Regions from separate parts of the Homo sapiens genome. Here region 2 is linked to region 1. A link means that fine-mapping ties the variant in region 1 to the expression of a gene that starts in the linked region. Tissue or cell type: whole blood. Region 1 holds a variant in brackets; the other region holds the start of a gene. All regions are shown on one strand. Distances are between the middles of the regions.

What was found. PIP is the estimated chance that this variant, and not a neighbour inherited with it, causes the effect.
Region 2: BAIAP2L2 starts here. The variant in region 1 is fine-mapped to the expression of BAIAP2L2 in whole blood (INTERVAL, PIP 0.97).

What each region holds. Positions count from the first base shown.
Region 1 is chr22:38,142,242-38,150,463 of GRCh38, forward strand. It overlaps PLA2G6 (phospholipase A2 group VI), which reads right to left. Exons shown (of 17, transcript NM_003560.4): 3 at 3,197-3,412; 4 at 864-1,047. Among named protein-coding and RNA genes, the nearest start is that of PLA2G6, 35 kb to the right of the region's middle. RefSeq lists an enhancer at 508-1,008. The variant G/A (reference allele first, on the strand shown) is at 3,658.
Region 2 is chr22:38,106,536-38,114,535 of GRCh38, forward strand. BAIAP2L2 (BAR/IMD domain containing adaptor protein 2 like 2) reads right to left here and starts at 4,149. Exons shown (of 14, transcript NM_025045.6): 1 at 3,940-4,149; 2 at 2,598-2,673; 3 at 1,720-1,806; 4 at 1,317-1,378. The coding sequence starts at 3,990. It overlaps PLA2G6 (phospholipase A2 group VI), which reads right to left. Exons shown (of 17, transcript NM_003560.4): 15 at 6,952-7,119; 16 at 5,969-6,042; 17 at 4,960-5,770. The coding sequence ends at 5,626. RefSeq lists an enhancer at 7,979-8,000.

The sequences.
Region 1 (8,222 bases):
TAACGTAGTTGCATTCTGATGCCAAGGCAGAGAGAACATGATCTTTAGAAGAATTTTCTAATTCTAGACAATAAAACATAATCCAACATCCTGCCTTTTCTGTTCAATCTAATATATGAAATAGCTATTTAATAGTATCACCCCATCTGCTTGCCCACAATTAAAAAATCACATCTTTTGCCCAGGTAATCAAAAACGTTAACAGGAGGGCCTCTGGCACAAATGCCTACAGGAACTGGAGACAGTTTGGTTTGCTTGGTTTGAATTCCTGTAAAATAGGGTTGTCCAATATTTTGGCCTCCCTGGGCCACATCAGAAGAATTGTCTTGGGTCACACATAAAATACATGAACGCTAACAACAGCTGATCTAAAAAAAAGGTCCATGCATGGATCTCATAATGTTTTAAGAAAGTTTGTGAATTTGTGTTGGGCCACATTCAAAGCCGTCCTGGGCTGCATGCAGCCTGCAGGGCCACAGATTGGACAAGCTTGCAAAAGGTTAAGCCCAGGTCCCGCTGGCCCACGAGCCCCTCCAGGCAGGCATCTGGCTCACAGTTTGTGCTCAGGAAAAGTGGAACTGAACTAACTGACTGGAGCTGGGCCTTTTTTGGGGTTTATTTTGCTGGGTTGGAGGCCGTCCCCAGGTTTATCAAGCAAAGAGACTGAGGACGTGGCTCCTGGAAAAGGGCTGGGAGGGAAGAGCCAGGGAGGGGTCTGCACCCTCCATGAAGGAGCTCAGGCCTCAAGGACCAATGGGGGACAGTGAGAGGCCTGAGAGTGACACCTGAGCCTAGGGGCCCAAAGGGAACCGTGGACACCGGGAGGTATCAGTACCAGTCACCCTGCCCCTCCCCCTGCTCACCTGCAGCACCTGAGAATTGTCACCCTGGACAGCATAATGGAAGACGGTCTCTCCCTTGTAGTCGGTGACATCCATCTGAGTGTGGCAGTACTGCACCAGCTCCACCAGGATCTCCCCATCACCCTTGCGGCAGGCCAGGTGCAGGGGTGTGCAGCCCTCCTCGTTCTCCGCGCAATTGGCACAGCTGCAGGAGAGGGCCAGGGTGAGCAGAGGTGAGCAGGTGTGGTACAAGGTGGCAGGGGGACCTAAGTGCACATGCAGGGAAGTGCACTCGGAAACTCGGACTTTCTGGTTTATTTGAGCTCAAGAGCATTCCCGCCACTCAGCTAGTTGGGCTGATTTGAATGTAATTATATCTGATGTGACCTGTATCAGGTTTCTGTTCAGTTTGCTCACTCGTACAAGAGATGGGCCCCAGGGCCACACCAGCAGGAAGTGGGCAGGGTGGTGGCACAGGAAAGGGTCACAGAACACGGATATCTCACTAGCCTCAGGCAATTCACTTAACCTTTCTGGGCGTCAATATCCTTATCGACACAAGCTGCTGTGCCTGCCCCAGGAAATGGACAGAGTGATGGTGAGATGAGACAGTGCTGTCCAAAAGCACGCCTGGAAACTAAAGTGCAGTGAGGGTTTTTGTTTTGTTTTGTTTTTTTGAGGTGGAGTTTCACTCTTGTTGCCCAGGCTGTAATGCAGTGACACAATCTCGGCTCACTGCAACCTCCGCCTCTGGGTTCAAGCAATTCTCCTGCCTCAGCCTCCCGAGTAGCTGGGATTACAGGCGTGCGCCACCACGCCTTGCTAATTTTTTGTATTTTTAGTAGAGACGGGGTTTCACCACGTTGGCCAGGCTGGTCTCAAACTCCTGACCTCAAGTGATACACCCGCCTCGGCCTCACAAAGTGCTGGGATTACAGGTGTGAGCCACCACGCCCGGCCAGCAGTGAGGTTTTGAGTTCTGGGCCTGGGAGCTTAACTGAGCTATCTAGGATAGAGACTCAGAGGAGGTGTGGCTACCTCTGCACAAGATGGCCAACTGGTGCCCTGTGCAAGGGTGGGGACAGTGCCCTCACCAGGGGCAACAGCTGCTCCATCTGCTGGCTGAATGGATTCACAAAAGGAGGCCTTCAGCTTCCAGAAGAGCAGCCTGGGCAGACACCAAGGATCCAAGCCCCTCTTTCACCCTCTCTGGCTGAGTGACCTGCACAAGTCCTGTTAGCTCTCTCTAGAATGATGATACCTGGGCCGGGCATGGTGGCTCACGCCTGTAATCCCGGCACTTTGGGAGGCCAAGGAGGGCAGATCACCTGAGGTTAGGAGTTCGAGACCAACCTGGCCAACATGGTGAAACCCCGTCTCTACTAAAAAACACAAAAAAATTAGCCGGGCGTGGTGGCGGGCGCCTGTAGTCCCAGCTACGCGGGAGGCTGAGGCAGGAGAATGGCGTGAACCCGGGAGGCGGAGCTTGCAGTGAGCCGAGATCGCGCCACTGCACTCCAGCCTGGGCGACAGAGCGAGACTCCGTCTCAAAAAAAAAAAAAAAAAAAAAAAAAATTACCCGGGCATGATGGCACATTACTGTAATCCCAGCTATTCCGGAGGCTGAGGCAGGAGAATCACCTGAACCCAGGAGGCAGAGGGTGCAGTGAGCCAAGATCGCGCCACTGCACTCCAGCCTGGGTGACAGAATAAGACTCCGTCTCAAAATAAAATAACATAACGTAACATAAAATAAAATAAAATAAAATAAAATAAAATAAAATAAAATAAAGTAAAATAAAATGACGATACCTTGTGGGGGTTGGGAAAATTCAATTTCATGGTGGGTAGAAATCAGCTCCCACAGACCTGGCACCTGGTGAGCACTCCGGACTCTGGAAACATTACATTGTCCTTCTTACATTTTAATCTGGTAGCAACGCAGCACCTTTTTTTTTTTTTTTTTTTTTTTCCTAGAGACAAGGTCTCATTCTGTCACCCAGGCTGAAGTGCAGTGGTGCAATCATAGCTCACTGTAAACTCTAACTCCTGGGCTCAAGCAATCCTCCTGCCTCAGCATCCCAAGTAGCTAGGAGTATAGACACATGCTAATTTTTTAATTTTTTCGTAGAGACAAGGTCTTGCTATTTTGCCAGGCTGGTCTTGAACTCCTAGTCTCAAGTGATCCTCCCTCCTCAGCCTCCCAAAGTGCTGGGACTGCGTTAGTGAGCGACCATGCCAGGCCCTGCTCCTTTTTAAGTCAAACTATGGAGGGGAACCGAGGCCTGCGGCCCCCACTGCCCACACAAGCAGGTACACACACGTTGTCCAAATGGTCTTGTTCCCTTGCTCACCTGATGATACGGCTGTGATGGAAGCACTCGCGGATCCCTAGCTCCACAGCCAGGTGGGCCACTGACCAGCTGGGGTGGTTACGGATGAGGTCGGTCAGGTGCTGCAGGACCTCAGTGTGCAGGACCTGAGGGGAGCTCTCATAGAAGGGTAGCAGCTGGGAAGAATACTGATGGAAATTCACTAGGGCGTCAGCCTCCAACTCCAGCTGGAAGAGTCTGTAGAGCCAGGACAGAGGAGCAAGACCCGAAATGAGTAAGGCGGGACCCTCGGCCCACATCCCTGCTGGAATCAGAAGGTCCCCAGGCTGCGGCCTGGCCAGCTCCAGCCCGACTCCCCTCCCAAGCAAACACACACACACACACACACACACACACACACACACACACACACACACACCCCTATACACATGTAAATGACATAATGGCGTTTAGGTTAGACTTTCTTTGTTTTTTAGAGACAA[G/A]GTCTTGCTCTGTAACCCAGGCTGGGGTGCGGTGGTGTGATCATGACTCACTGCATCTTCGAATTCCTGGGCTGAAGGGATCCTCCTACCTTAGTTCCTGAGTAGCTGGGATTACAGGCATGCACCACCATGCCCAGCTAATTTTTTTTTTTTTTGAGATAGAGTCTCATTTTGTCACCCAGGCTGGAGTGCAGTGTTGTAATCTCACCTCACTGCGACCTTCACCTCCCGGGTTCAAGCAATTCTCCTACCTCAGTCTCCAGAGTAGCTGGGATTAAAGGCGTGTGCTGCCACACCTGGCTAATTTTTTGTGTTTTTAGTAGAGATGGGGTTTGGCCATGTTGCCCAGGCTGGTCTCGAACTCCTGAGCTCAGGCAATCCACCCCCCTCAGCCTCTCAAAGTGCTAGGATTTCAGGCACTAGCCACCGTGAGCCACTGTGCCTGGCCTAATTTTTTTTTATTTTTGTTGACAGGGGGTCTTGCTATGTTGCCCAGGCTGGTCTTGAACTCCTGGCCTCAAGTGTTCCTCCTGCCTCAGCCTCCAAAAGTACTGGGATTACAGGTGTGAGCCACTATGCTTGTCTAGATTTTCCTTTATTTTGAAAAACTTTCCTTTTCTTTGGTAATATCATTTATTATTTTTATATTTTATTTTACCACAGCCCTGCCATATCCACTTTCTAATTTCATTGCCACATGTGAGAGCTCCAGCCTCGAGTACTTGGCCCCTCTTCATAGTAGGAACTAAGTAAGTATTGTTTAACCTAAATGTACAGCAACAAAATATTATATAAATTATGGTATAACTATGTAATAAACTATTATGCAGTCATTAAAATGAGATATTTAAAAAAAGGGAAACTTTTCTTTTTCTTTTCTTTTCTTTTTTTTTTTTTTGAGATGGAGTTTCATTCTTGTTGCCCAGGCTGGAGTACAATGGCACGATCTCGGCTCACTGCAGCCTCCATCTCCCAGGTTCAAGTGATTCTCCTGCCTCAGCCTCCTGAGTAGCTGGGATTACAGGCACCCGCCACCATGCCCGGCTAATTTTTTGTATTTTTAGAAGAGACAGAGTTTTGTCATGTTGGCCAGGCTGATCTTAAACTCCTGGCCTCAGGTGACCTGCCTGCCTGGGCCTCCCAAAGTGCTAGGATTACAGGCATGAGCCACTGCGCCCGGCCAGCTTTGTTCATTTTTAAGTGTTGAGGTTGAGTCCAAGTTTTGCTACTAAGGTGCTGTGTGATCTTGGGAAATCCTTTTCCCTCTCTGAGCCCCATTTGAAACATGAGACTAACTGTACCTGTCCTACCTACCTCCCAGAGGTGCTGTGAGGACAGATGAAAAACCACTATAAAAGCACTTTCAAAACCATAACCATTATATGTCAGTGATGGTTACTTAAAGTTCTGACCAGGGCTTTTAACATACCAAAAGGTTTTGTCTTGCATACCTCTACAAGCGCAGCAGCCAGCCAGAGTCTAGTGAAGGCAGTGCCCAGAGAGTGTTGGCTCAACGGGACCAGCCTGTTGTTCCACAGAGAGTGCGTTGATTAACAGTTAACTACTGGGCATGTGATCTGTGCCAAATGGAGGGGTCAATTAATGAACAATTGCATAAAATGCTCTGCCCTCCTGAAGCCTTTTTTTTTTTTTTTTTTTTGAGACAGAGTCTCACTCTGTTACCCAGGCTGGAGTGCAGTGGCGCGATCTCAGCTCACTGCAACCTCTGCCCCCTGGGTTCAAGTGATTCTCCTGCAATTCTCCTGCTTCAGCCTCCCTAGTAGCTGGGATTACAGGCGCTTGCTACCACGCCCAGCTAATTTTTGTATTTTTAGTAGGCACAGGGTTTCGCCATGTTGGCCAGGCTGGTCTCGAACTCCTCACCTCAAGTGATCCACCCATCTTGGTCTCCCAAAGTGCTGGGATTACAGGCGTGAGCCACTGTGCTTGGCCCGAGCCTATGTTATTATGGAGGAGATCAACAAAATGACTAAAGTAAAAACATAGAATAAGGAAGTACATTAAATAAACTATAACGTAATCAGTGTTACAGAAACAACAAAAACCACAACAAAGATAGGGAAGGAGGAGGCGGAAGGAAGCCATTCCTCATTGCCCTTGGCTGGGTTTTTCCTTCATCTCACCAGCCTCTCAACATCAGGGTACTCCACATCAAGTGTTGCCGATATGTCAGAGAATGACAACTGAAAACTCATCACTGGAATTAGCATCACGGAGGCATGCACGACCTTGACAACATTACTTTTAGTGGAATGGAGGGAACCAAGGCCTGATTAAAGTGGGTTTAAGGACACAATGTGAGAATCTGAAGATTGCAAAGATAGATATTTTTGAGGAGTTTTGCTGTGGTGAGGAGCAAATAAAGGAAAGGATAGCGAATGGGGAAAGTGTAATCAGGCATTTGAATGCTGACGGGAACGATGATTCTCTCTCAGAACTTCCACTTTCCATTAACAGCAGACTAGGGAATGTGAAACAGACCACCTACTGAGGACAGCCAGAAATGCTGGACAAATTATTAAAAAACATCTGCTGGCAGGCACTGGATACCTCAAAAGACACTGATGACTCACCAGGCTGGAAGGAATGATGGAAACCCAGGAATTGCAGTGTTCAGGTGGCTGTTACTGGAGAGGATGGGCAGACGAGCAGCACCAGTAACAGCCTCATGGGGCTCAGGACACAGGGACTGGAGCCCAGGCGTCTGCCAAGAGGAGAGCCCTGATGAACATCTCTTACTTTGGGTTAGGGTCCTAAAGAACTACGTAGCCTAGGAATAAGGGTGAGCCATACACAGACACGCTCTCACAGAGACCACAGTTCAGCCTCAAGTGATTTCAGTTCCAGAAACTAGACTGAGGTTATCCTAGTTGCAATGGGAGAAGCAAAAATAAATTCATTCTTTGTAAGGAAACATCAAACTAGGCTCTAGATTATTTCTTTTTTTTTTTTTTTTTTTTTTTTTGAGACGGAGTCTCGCTCTGTCACCCAGGCTGGAGTGCAGTGGCGTGATCTCGGCTCACTGCAACCTCTGCCTCCTGGTTCAAGTGATTCTCCTGCCTCAGCCTCCCGAGTAGCAGGGATTACAGGAACGTGCCACCATGCTCAGCTAATTTTTTGTATTTTTAGTAGAGATGGGGTTTCACCATGTTAGCCAGGATGGTCTTGATCTCCTGATCTCGTGATCCACCTGCCTCAGCCTCCCAAAGTGCTGGGATTACAGGCATGAGCCACTGCGCCCGGCCATTCCAGATTATTTCTACGAGCATACTTGCAAATACAATGACCAACACATAATCAAAACTCACCAGGCATATGTGGAGATAAGACATGAAAGAAAACCAACAGAAACAATATACAAAAGAAACATATCTGTGAGGGGACTGTAAATATTTAAGTTATCCAAAATAGACTTTAAAGTAACTGTGATAACATTCGAGAGGTTAAAAAAGGAAATTTAGAATTTTGGTGAAGAGTTTTGAATGATCAAAAAAGCATCAAATGGAAATTACAAAATTAAAAAATATAATCAGGAAAGAGTAAACAGAATAAAGCATGGAGAGACAGAAGAATACAAAATATAGTAGAGTACATAAGAGACACAGACTATCTAATAAAAGATCTAGCATACATACATAAGTGGAGGATCAGAGGCAGAGTAGAAAAAGAATCAAATGGAAGCTACATTTGAAAAGTTAATGTCTGCAAACTTTCCAAAACTGATTTTTAAAAAACATTATAGGTCAGGCACAGTGGCTCATACCTGTAATCCCACCACTTTGGGAGGCCAAGGTGGGTGGATCACCTGAGGTCAGGAATTCCAGACTAGCCATGGCGAAACCCCATGTCTACTAAAAATATAAAAATTAGCCGGGCGTGGCGGTGGGTGCCTATAATCCCAGCTACTTGGGAGGCTAAGGCAGGGGAATTGCTTGAACCAGCGGGGCGGAGGTTGCAGTGAGCCGAGATCACGCTACTTCACTCCAGCTTAGGCAAAAGAGTGAAACTCCATCTCTGATCACGCTACTTCACTCCAGCTTAGGCAAAAGAGTGAAACTCCATCTCCAAATAAATAAATAAAATTATTCTGCTGATTTAACATACCCTATAAGCCCTCCCTGACCCCACCACCAAAAAAAAAAAAAAAAACACATAGAAAAAAACAAAAAACAAGAAAGCCCCAGAAATCCACGCTTAGCACCTTGTAGGGGTTTTAAAACAGGGCCCCCTAAAATCACTGATATTCCTTGCACTGAGCAGTGGGAATTTGTATCTCTTTACCCTTTAATCTGGCGATGTAACTGCGTTACCAACAGAATATGGCAAAAGTGATGCCGTCCCAGCTTCCAGACCAATGCCTTAAGAGACTGGAAGTTTCTATTTCTCTTCTCTTGGGACCCAGCCATCATGCCTCAAGGAGGCTGAAGCAAGCCATGGTGACGACTCTTGGTCCTGGGCCCTGAGCCCTGAATGAACTACCAGCCAACAGCCAGCACCAACTTGCCAGTTGCGAGTTACCTTATATGGTGCCATATAAAGTAAAG
Region 2 (8,000 bases), 36 kb before region 1:
AAAAAAAAAAAAAGATTGTTCCCCATGCCCAACTGACTAGTATTTTATGGTATCCCCCAAAGAGCACCCTGACTTCCAGGGGCTCCCCTTCACACATTGGAGGGAGAACAATTAGTTAAAATTTCCTTCCGAACCTTCCCACTTGCCTCACCACCAGGCCCCACCCCACCTCTCCCACTCAGCCCCTGCGCCCAAGCCCTGGCTCATGCCTGCCTGCTGCCCGCTCATGGCTGTGCGCAGCCCGCTGCCATGCTCCCTTGGAAAGCCCTCTCTTCTCTCCATCTAGCCAAGCTGACTCCCTCAGCTCTTTTCTTTCCCCTGTGTCACTGAAGCCCTGCTTGGCGGAAGGCCCTGGAGCTACGGAGAGGAAGGAAGGCTCTGCGGCGCTCCCAGTCTTGGGAGGGATAGGGGCAGGTGAGTTAACTTCTGGTTATCATAGCTAAGGTATCCAGGGGCAGTAAGTAGGGGCCAGGGCAAACGGTTTATGCTTATTAATTCACGTCATCCTCTCAAGAACCCTGGGAGGCAGTTATTATGATTCTCTCCATTCCTCAGATAGGTAAGTGGAGGCATAGAGTCCAAGGTCACAAAACTAGTCACTGGTGAAGCTGGGCTTTGAACCCACCACGAGCTAAGAACGGACAGAATCATCTGTTGGAGTCCAGGGGGAGGGGTGACTGGACTTGCCCCAGGGAGTCAGAGGAGGCTTTGGGAAGGAGGGGACAGCTGCTTCCCAACTGGACGGCAGGGGGAGGGACCGGTGGCTCTAGGCTGAGAGGACAGCAGGACAGCAGCCCCGCAGCGGGGACACCAGCAGAGGGCCCACTCTTCCGGGGGGCTGGGCTGTGTTGGGGGTGTCAGGAGAAGCTGCTGGATCGACAGAGCCAGGGACCCCTCACTGAGAAGCCTGTGTTCAGTTCTACGGGCAGTGGGGCCGTGGAACGGTTCTGCTCCTGGGAGTGACATGGTCAGGTCCATGTGGCTGCTCCCTGGGAGGCTGCAGTGAGGAGGGCTGCAGTGAAAGGACCTTTCTCTTCCTTGGGCCTCCATTCACTCTGGCATCTCAGGCAATGACTAGCTCTTTGAGACTCAGTTTCTTCCTCTATAAAATGGAGGCAGAAATGCCACCAGCCTCCTAGGGCTGCTAGAGGCTTGAACGACTATTGCAGGGAACCGTGCCCCACAGAGCCGGGTGCTGGGAAGGGCAGCCACGGTCATCCTCCCTGGGAAGGGCATCTGGTAGGCTGGGCCCTCTCCTTGGAACATAGCCCACTTTCCTCGAGTGACCCCTCCAGGCCCTGGGGCCTGATACTCACCACCACCTCCAGGTCAGAGTTCAAGTGCCGCTGGGTGTCAGACATCTGCACCAAGATCTCCCCTGGAGGCATGGATGCAGCTGTGGCTTTGGTGTGTGGCAGCCTGCCCCGCCCACCCACCACCCTCTTCCGCTGAAAGCCAACAGAGGGCCTGCCCGAGACTGGATTTTGGGACCAAAGTCCGGGAACTTCCCATATGGTTCTCTGGGAGCCAGGCCATGTGTGTCCCAGCCTGGGAGCAGCCCGGCAGGGAGTGGTGGCGGGGAGCCTGGGCCCCAGAACAAGAGTCTGGCTCTGGGCCCTGGGCTGAAAGGCCTGTGTCAGGGACTCGGGACATCCTGGAAGGGCAAGGGTGCAAAAGGAGGGCCCAAGAATGGGGTCTGCTGTGGAGGGGGAGCCTCACCCAGAATCTGTGAGGTGGGGCTCTGCAGGGCACGCTCCCCAATCTTCTGGATGGCACTGAAGTAGACCTCGGCCGCCTCGGACAGAGCTGTGGACCAGAAGGGACAGGTCTGGTCCAGCCCTGCCTCTGCCCCACCCTTCTGGAGGCTCTTTTCATCTGGAGGGGACTGTGTCTGTCCTGGGTGGGGTGTGGGCATCTGTGTGTGCCCCTGAGGAGGGTGTGACCAGTTGAGCTGTGAAACTCAGGTGCAGGGGCATAAGGTGAGGGCTGGGGGCAGGGAGGTGGCGTGGAAAGCATCTAAGAAGCAGGGGGATGGGAGGCCCTGAGGTTCAGGGTTGATCAGCACTGGTGGGTAGTGGGGTGCTATTGGCAGGTATGAGCGGCCACAGCGGACGGGTACAAGGGTTTGCACGGGGACCGAGTGAATGTCAAGGCCAGCTGCAGGGTGTGTGGGTGGTGGCCAGTTGAAGTGAGGAAGCCAGCTGCTGTGTGAGCCTGGGTGCAGAGGTGGGACTGAGTATAGGGGTGGGTTCAGCTGGTGGCATCCAGGTGACGCCTAGAAATGTATGCACTGTCAGGGGCTGCCCTGGGGCTGTGTGGGCCTGCAGGGCCTGGTACTGCATCATGGGAGTGTCTGGAGGCACCTGAAGGAGGGGGCAATGAGGGGTGCTGGGTGTGGACTGGGGTGCGTGGGCACAGGAGAGTGGGGGTGCATAAGGCCTCTCTGGCTGCAGAGGTGTGAGGGTGAGGGTGGTGGGTAGGAGGGTGTAGGGTTGAGGATGAACAGGTGTGGGATGCAGAGAATCTGGGAGGGGCCTGGGTGGGTGGGAACAGCAGAGGCCCAGGGCTGGGGCTCGGTGGCCCGGGCAGGCACTCACCGTGGAAGGCACGCAGGTAGTTGTTGCCCAGGTACACCAGGTTCTCCAGGGCGGGGTTAAACTGCTCCATGATGCTCTGGACCCCAGGGTCAGGGGAGGAAAAAGGTGTAGAGATGGGGGAGCGAGAAGGAACCACGGATGGAGTCAAGTCACCAGGCGTCAGGGACAGGGCACCCCCAGCCCAGTGAGAAGCCCCAGACTTTGGGGGGCCCATCTACAAACCTAGGCTCACCCAGAATCCTGGCTCTTGGCTGCAGGGACCTCAGAGCCCATCTTTTGGGGTCCTGTTCTAAGCTGTGGTCCCCTCACAGCCAGCTCCCGCTTACGTCTGCTCTGGCGGGACCGAGGTGCCTCCCGAGATGGTGCACCTGGAAGGTTCTCCTCCTCCCGCTGGGCAGAAGCTGGCCCGCCTGCTGTGGTCCCCACTGGGCACGGCTCAGCCCTGCCCTGTGTCCAGGCCTTGCCGGGCTACACGCCTGGGGCTGCCAACAGTCACCCCCGGGGCAAGGGCAGCTCTCGCCCTCCTCCGAGAACAGCCCCCCATGGGCAAGGCTGTGGCTGGATTAGTGTGGGCCTCCTCGGGCTGGGGCCGGGCAGAGAGCTCCCCGGATGGTGAAGACGGGCCTGGACTTGGGCCTGGACTTGGACTTGGGTCTCGGTTCAAATCCCAGCAGCACCTCTTCCTCCCTCCGTGACCTTGAATGAGCTGTTTAACCTCTTTGGTCTCAGTTTTCTCATCTATCAAGCAGGGTGGTCATTTTCCACCTCACAGGTGGGTGGTGTGAGGCCTCCAGGTGAAAGGGTCCTGCACACAGGAGGCGCTCAATAAATGTCTGTGGCGGCTGCAACAACCCCCCGGGGGTGAAGTAGGAAGTCTGAGGGGCTCAGAAATGAGAGAGACAGAGACAGGGAGAGACAGAGAGAGAGAGAGAGACAGAGAGAGAGAGAGACAGAGAGAGAGAGAGACAGAGAGAGGGAGAGAGAGAGGGAGAGAGAGAGAGAGAGAGAGAGAGAGAGGGAGAGACAGAGAGAGAGAGGGAGGGTCTTTCTTTATTCCCAGGCCGGGCAGCCAGGCCCTTCTCATCCAGACTCAACTCTCCCCACCCTGGGCCTTGGGCTCCCTCCTGCCTTGTCCAGCATCTGGGAGTTGGGGGTTCCCGCTGTATGGCTGAGTGCTCTCGGGGATCCTTACCCCCGTACCCACCCCTGGCCCAGCCTGGCTCCAGGCTTCCCTTTCCAGGACATCTGTAGCCCCGGCTGGCCCTCCGTCCTCCAGAGCGGGCCTGATTTCTGTGCCCTGGGAGGAGGGGCTCAGGCCTGGCTTGGCCACCCATGTGCTCACCTTGTAGATGGCCATGGTGGACCTGTAGAACTGGTCCATCTCGGGGGCCATGGAGGGGCTGTCCCGGGTCTGAGCAGGAGGCTGGGAGCTGGTGGCGATGGCACAGCCGGGAGCAGTGGTAGGTAGTCCCTCAGGTGCCCACGACTCAGCTGGCAGCGAGGAAGCCTCGGAGAGGGACCTGGAGATGGAGGCCTGCCTCAGAGGAGTGGCAGCTTAATTATTCACCAACTCGGGATGTCAGAATGTGATCTGGGGCGTAACCAGATCCGGCAGGGAAGGCATCCTGTGCCGGGCAGGCTCGTGTGACCTGCCCTTCAATTATTCACCCCTTGGAGCTGTGGGCTGATACAAGTGCCCATGTGGATGAGCCCCCTCCTGGGTCACCCCCTCCTCAAGGACCCCAACCCTGGGGGGCCCCGCCCTCCCACCTGCCTATACCAGGCATTGCCCACCTTACTGGGCGGGCGCTGCCCGATGCCCTCCCCCAGGACTCTCTCTGCCAGACCCAGCAGCAGCAGCCCCTGGAGGGGAACGCCGCTTTACTTCTCACTGTCCTCAGGCCTGCGGCTCACAGTGGGGCCACGCCCTCTGAGCTTGGCTCCCACAGCCGCTCTGGCCCGCCCAGCTCCTCCACTTGCCGGAGCAGGAGCAGCACAAACGCTGGAGTTGCCCAGCCCTGGGCAGACCTCGGCCCTGCACACGCGCTGCCTGTCCACGCGGAGTCCCCGGCCTCTCTGGGTGACAAATGGGGCTCTCCCTGGTCCTCCAAGATGAAGTTGAAGATTGTGGCCCTCCTTGGGCCTGCCGGGGGTATGTGGGCCTGGCAGCTGCCTCTGCATACCCTAAGGGCCGGTTTAGGGGAGGCCTAGAGGAAAGAGGAGGTGTCCCTGCCCAGGGATCCTGGAAAACAGAGTGTCCGGGTACAAAGGAAAAGTCCGGTCAAGGCCAAGGGTCAAGGCCGAGGGGAGCCGGGGGTCAGGGGAACAGGTGGATCTCACACCACTGCACACACAACACAGGTGAACTTGAATCCAAATGATTTATTTCAGTTTTGGCTCTTAAGCCACTTCCATTGGGAAGAAGAAACTCCCAGGAGTGACCTTTGAGAGCTGAGGGTTCTCGGGGTGGGGCAGTGTGAGGGGCTGGGCCAGTGTGAGGGGCAAAGTCCAACGGGCATCCCACTCCTGCGGCCTGGGCTTTCCCAGCTGATGGGGTGGGGGACACCCATTTCTTTAGTCCCAGCCCCCAGGGAACGGAGCAGAGGGCAGAGGGAGTGGGCTGCACCCACCAGGAAGCCTGGGAGTGCCCTTGCTGGGGGCTGGGGCAGAGGCAGCCCGGCAGGCCCTCAGGGAGGCTGGGGCTGGGGGCAGGGGTACGGTTGTGCCCGGGTACCCTTAATGTTTGAGCTGATGGGGGAGTCAGTTGTCCTTGACAGTCAGGGAAAGGGGCCAAAGGGGGCTCTAGACTTTCCCAGCCTGGAATGACAGAAAGTGCTGGAAGGCGGGGTTAGTGGGAGACAGGCCTTCAGGACCAGCCTCGGGCAGGCAGCTTGGCATTCTCCCAGGCCTGGTCTATGGACTCAGAGGTGCCTGGGCCCAGATCTGCCCGGGAGGGCAGTGGCTGGGCTTGGCCTGGCAGGGGCTGAATGGACGAGGTCAGCTGGGGCCGGTGAGAGGCTGGGGACCCTCAGGGTGAGAGCAGCAGCTGGATGAGCTTCTGGAACTCCTCGCGGTGCTCATAGATGTAGACCTCGGTCTCCCAGAGGGCGTTGACCAGCACTGTGTCACTGACCTCATCCAGCATGATGTCCGTCCCCAGCTGGGGGTTCAATCTGTTCGGGCCAGGGAGGAGGGGGTCACCCTAGGATGCTCAGGCTGGGCAGGGGACGCCAGCTAGGACCAGGGTGGGCTTGGGGAACAGAGCAGACCCTTGGGGAAGGGAAAGTCCACACTAGGGCTGGGAGGGGAAGGTCGGTGAGTCCGACCACGCCAGGGCACGGGGCCAAGGGCTGGGGCGGCTGAGCCCTCACCTGAAGTACTGGATGCCGACCATCTCGCACCAGGCCCGTGCCCGGTCCACAGCCCGCCCGTCTGGATCCGTGCACTGGTGAGAAGCAGCCTTGGTGAGTGCCGGGCCCACACCCCGCCCGGCCCGCACCCCGCCCGGCCCTGCCCTGCACTCTCGGAGCCCCAGCCTGGGGAGCCCCAGGCTCTTTCGAGTCAGGCTGAGCCACACAGCAGCAGAGCGGCTCGGGCAAAACCCCTTCCTGGGACTGCAGGGACTGTCCCAGCTGTGCAATCAGAGGGGCAGAGGTCTCAGCAGTGCCCTTTCAGGGATGATGAGTGGGGGAAAGGGTAGCGGCTGAGTCGACAGGCCTCCATGTCCCCTCTCCCTGAAGTTTCCCTCCCTCCCTCCTCTCTCTCTCTCTCTCTCTTTCTTTCTTTCTTTTTGAGACAAGGTCTCCTTCTGTTGCTCAGGCTGGAGTGCAGTGGCATGATCACAGCTCACTGCAGCCTCTGCCTCTTGGGCTTAAGCAATCCTCCCACCTCAGCCTCCTGAGTAGCTGGGACCACAGGCACACACCACCATGTCCAGCTAGTTTTTAATTTTTTGGTAGAGACAAAGTCTCATTATATTGCTCAGGCTGGTCTCAAACTGCTGTGCTCAAGTGGTCCGCCTGCCTTGGCCTCCCAAAGTGCTGGGATTACAGGGTGAGCGCCCAGCCCGCTCTGGAGCCTTTGTCCATTCTGGGCTTCTACACTGCGCTATGTTTGCAGAAAGGGATCCGCAGCTAAAAAGCGTTTGAAAACCCCCCTGCTGGTGGTCACTGAGGGTCCCTGCCCCGCACTGAGACTCTGAACTGTGGACTCTCTCTCCCTCCAGCTGGCTAAAGGCGATGGACAGAGCCCTGCTGTCTCCTCCAACACCAAAGGCCCCACAGGATGAGGGGAAGCCATCGACCTGGGCTACAGACCCTGAGGGAAGTGGCCTGGGGGAGGGGCCCACACTCACACAGTCCACCACCATCTTGCCCAGTTCCTTGGCCCCAAAAACAGTCTTGGCCAGCTCCCAGGGGTTGCTGGGACGGAAGACATCCACACAGGTCACAGGCACTTGTGGGGACCTCCCTGTCCCCAGGGAGACAACGATGGAGAGTTTCTTCACCTTGTTGGCCTGACCCTGTTGGGAACAGGACAGGGGCAGTCAGAAGAGACCTTCCACAGGTAGGGGGCACGAAGGGGAGCGTCAAGGGGAGGCCCAAGACTGGGCTCTGGGGCACATGAGAACAGGGCAAGAGGTCTCTGGTGGCAAGAGCATGCCTGGCATGATTTCCAGCCAGCCTCTTGCACGTGACCCCAGAACGGCTGGTGCGGGCATCACATGCCATCTGCTCAGGACAGCATCTGTGTACCAACAGGACCACACATACACCAGCTGCAAGAAGGATCCCGCCCACCCCATCTGATGCTGGCCCAAGTCAAGTCGTGGCCAGGGGAGGAAAGGCAGACGGTGTTCCTTGGTGTTGGTGATTTGCCAGGTATTTGCATCATTACTTCATTTAATCTCCAGCCAGTCTGTGGAGAGGGCACTGATCACCCAGTTTGCAAATGAGGGCTCTCAGCGAAGCTCAGGCCGGGAAGCAGCTGCAGGGGCCACGTGGTAGGGAAGTAGGGGCTAAGGCTTGAACCTGAGCCCTGGGTGCTGCCTTTTTTTTTTTTTTTTTGAGACGGAGTCTCGCTCTGTCTCCCAGTCTGGAGTGCAGTGGCGCGATCTCGGCTCACTGCAAGCTCCGCCTCCTGGGTTCACACCATTCTCCTGCCTCAGCATCCCGAGTAGCTGGGACTACAGGCTCCTGCCACTATGCCCGCCTGGCTAATTTTTTTGTATTTTTAGTAGAGACAGGGTTTCACCGTGTTAGCCAGGATGGTCTCGATCTCCTGACCTCATGATCCACTTGCCTCGGCCTCCCAAAGTGCTGGGATTACAGGCGTGAGCCGCTGCGCCCGGCCGCTGCCTCTCTTATTTGCTTCCGAACAAGCTCTGCTGCCGATTTGCTGGAT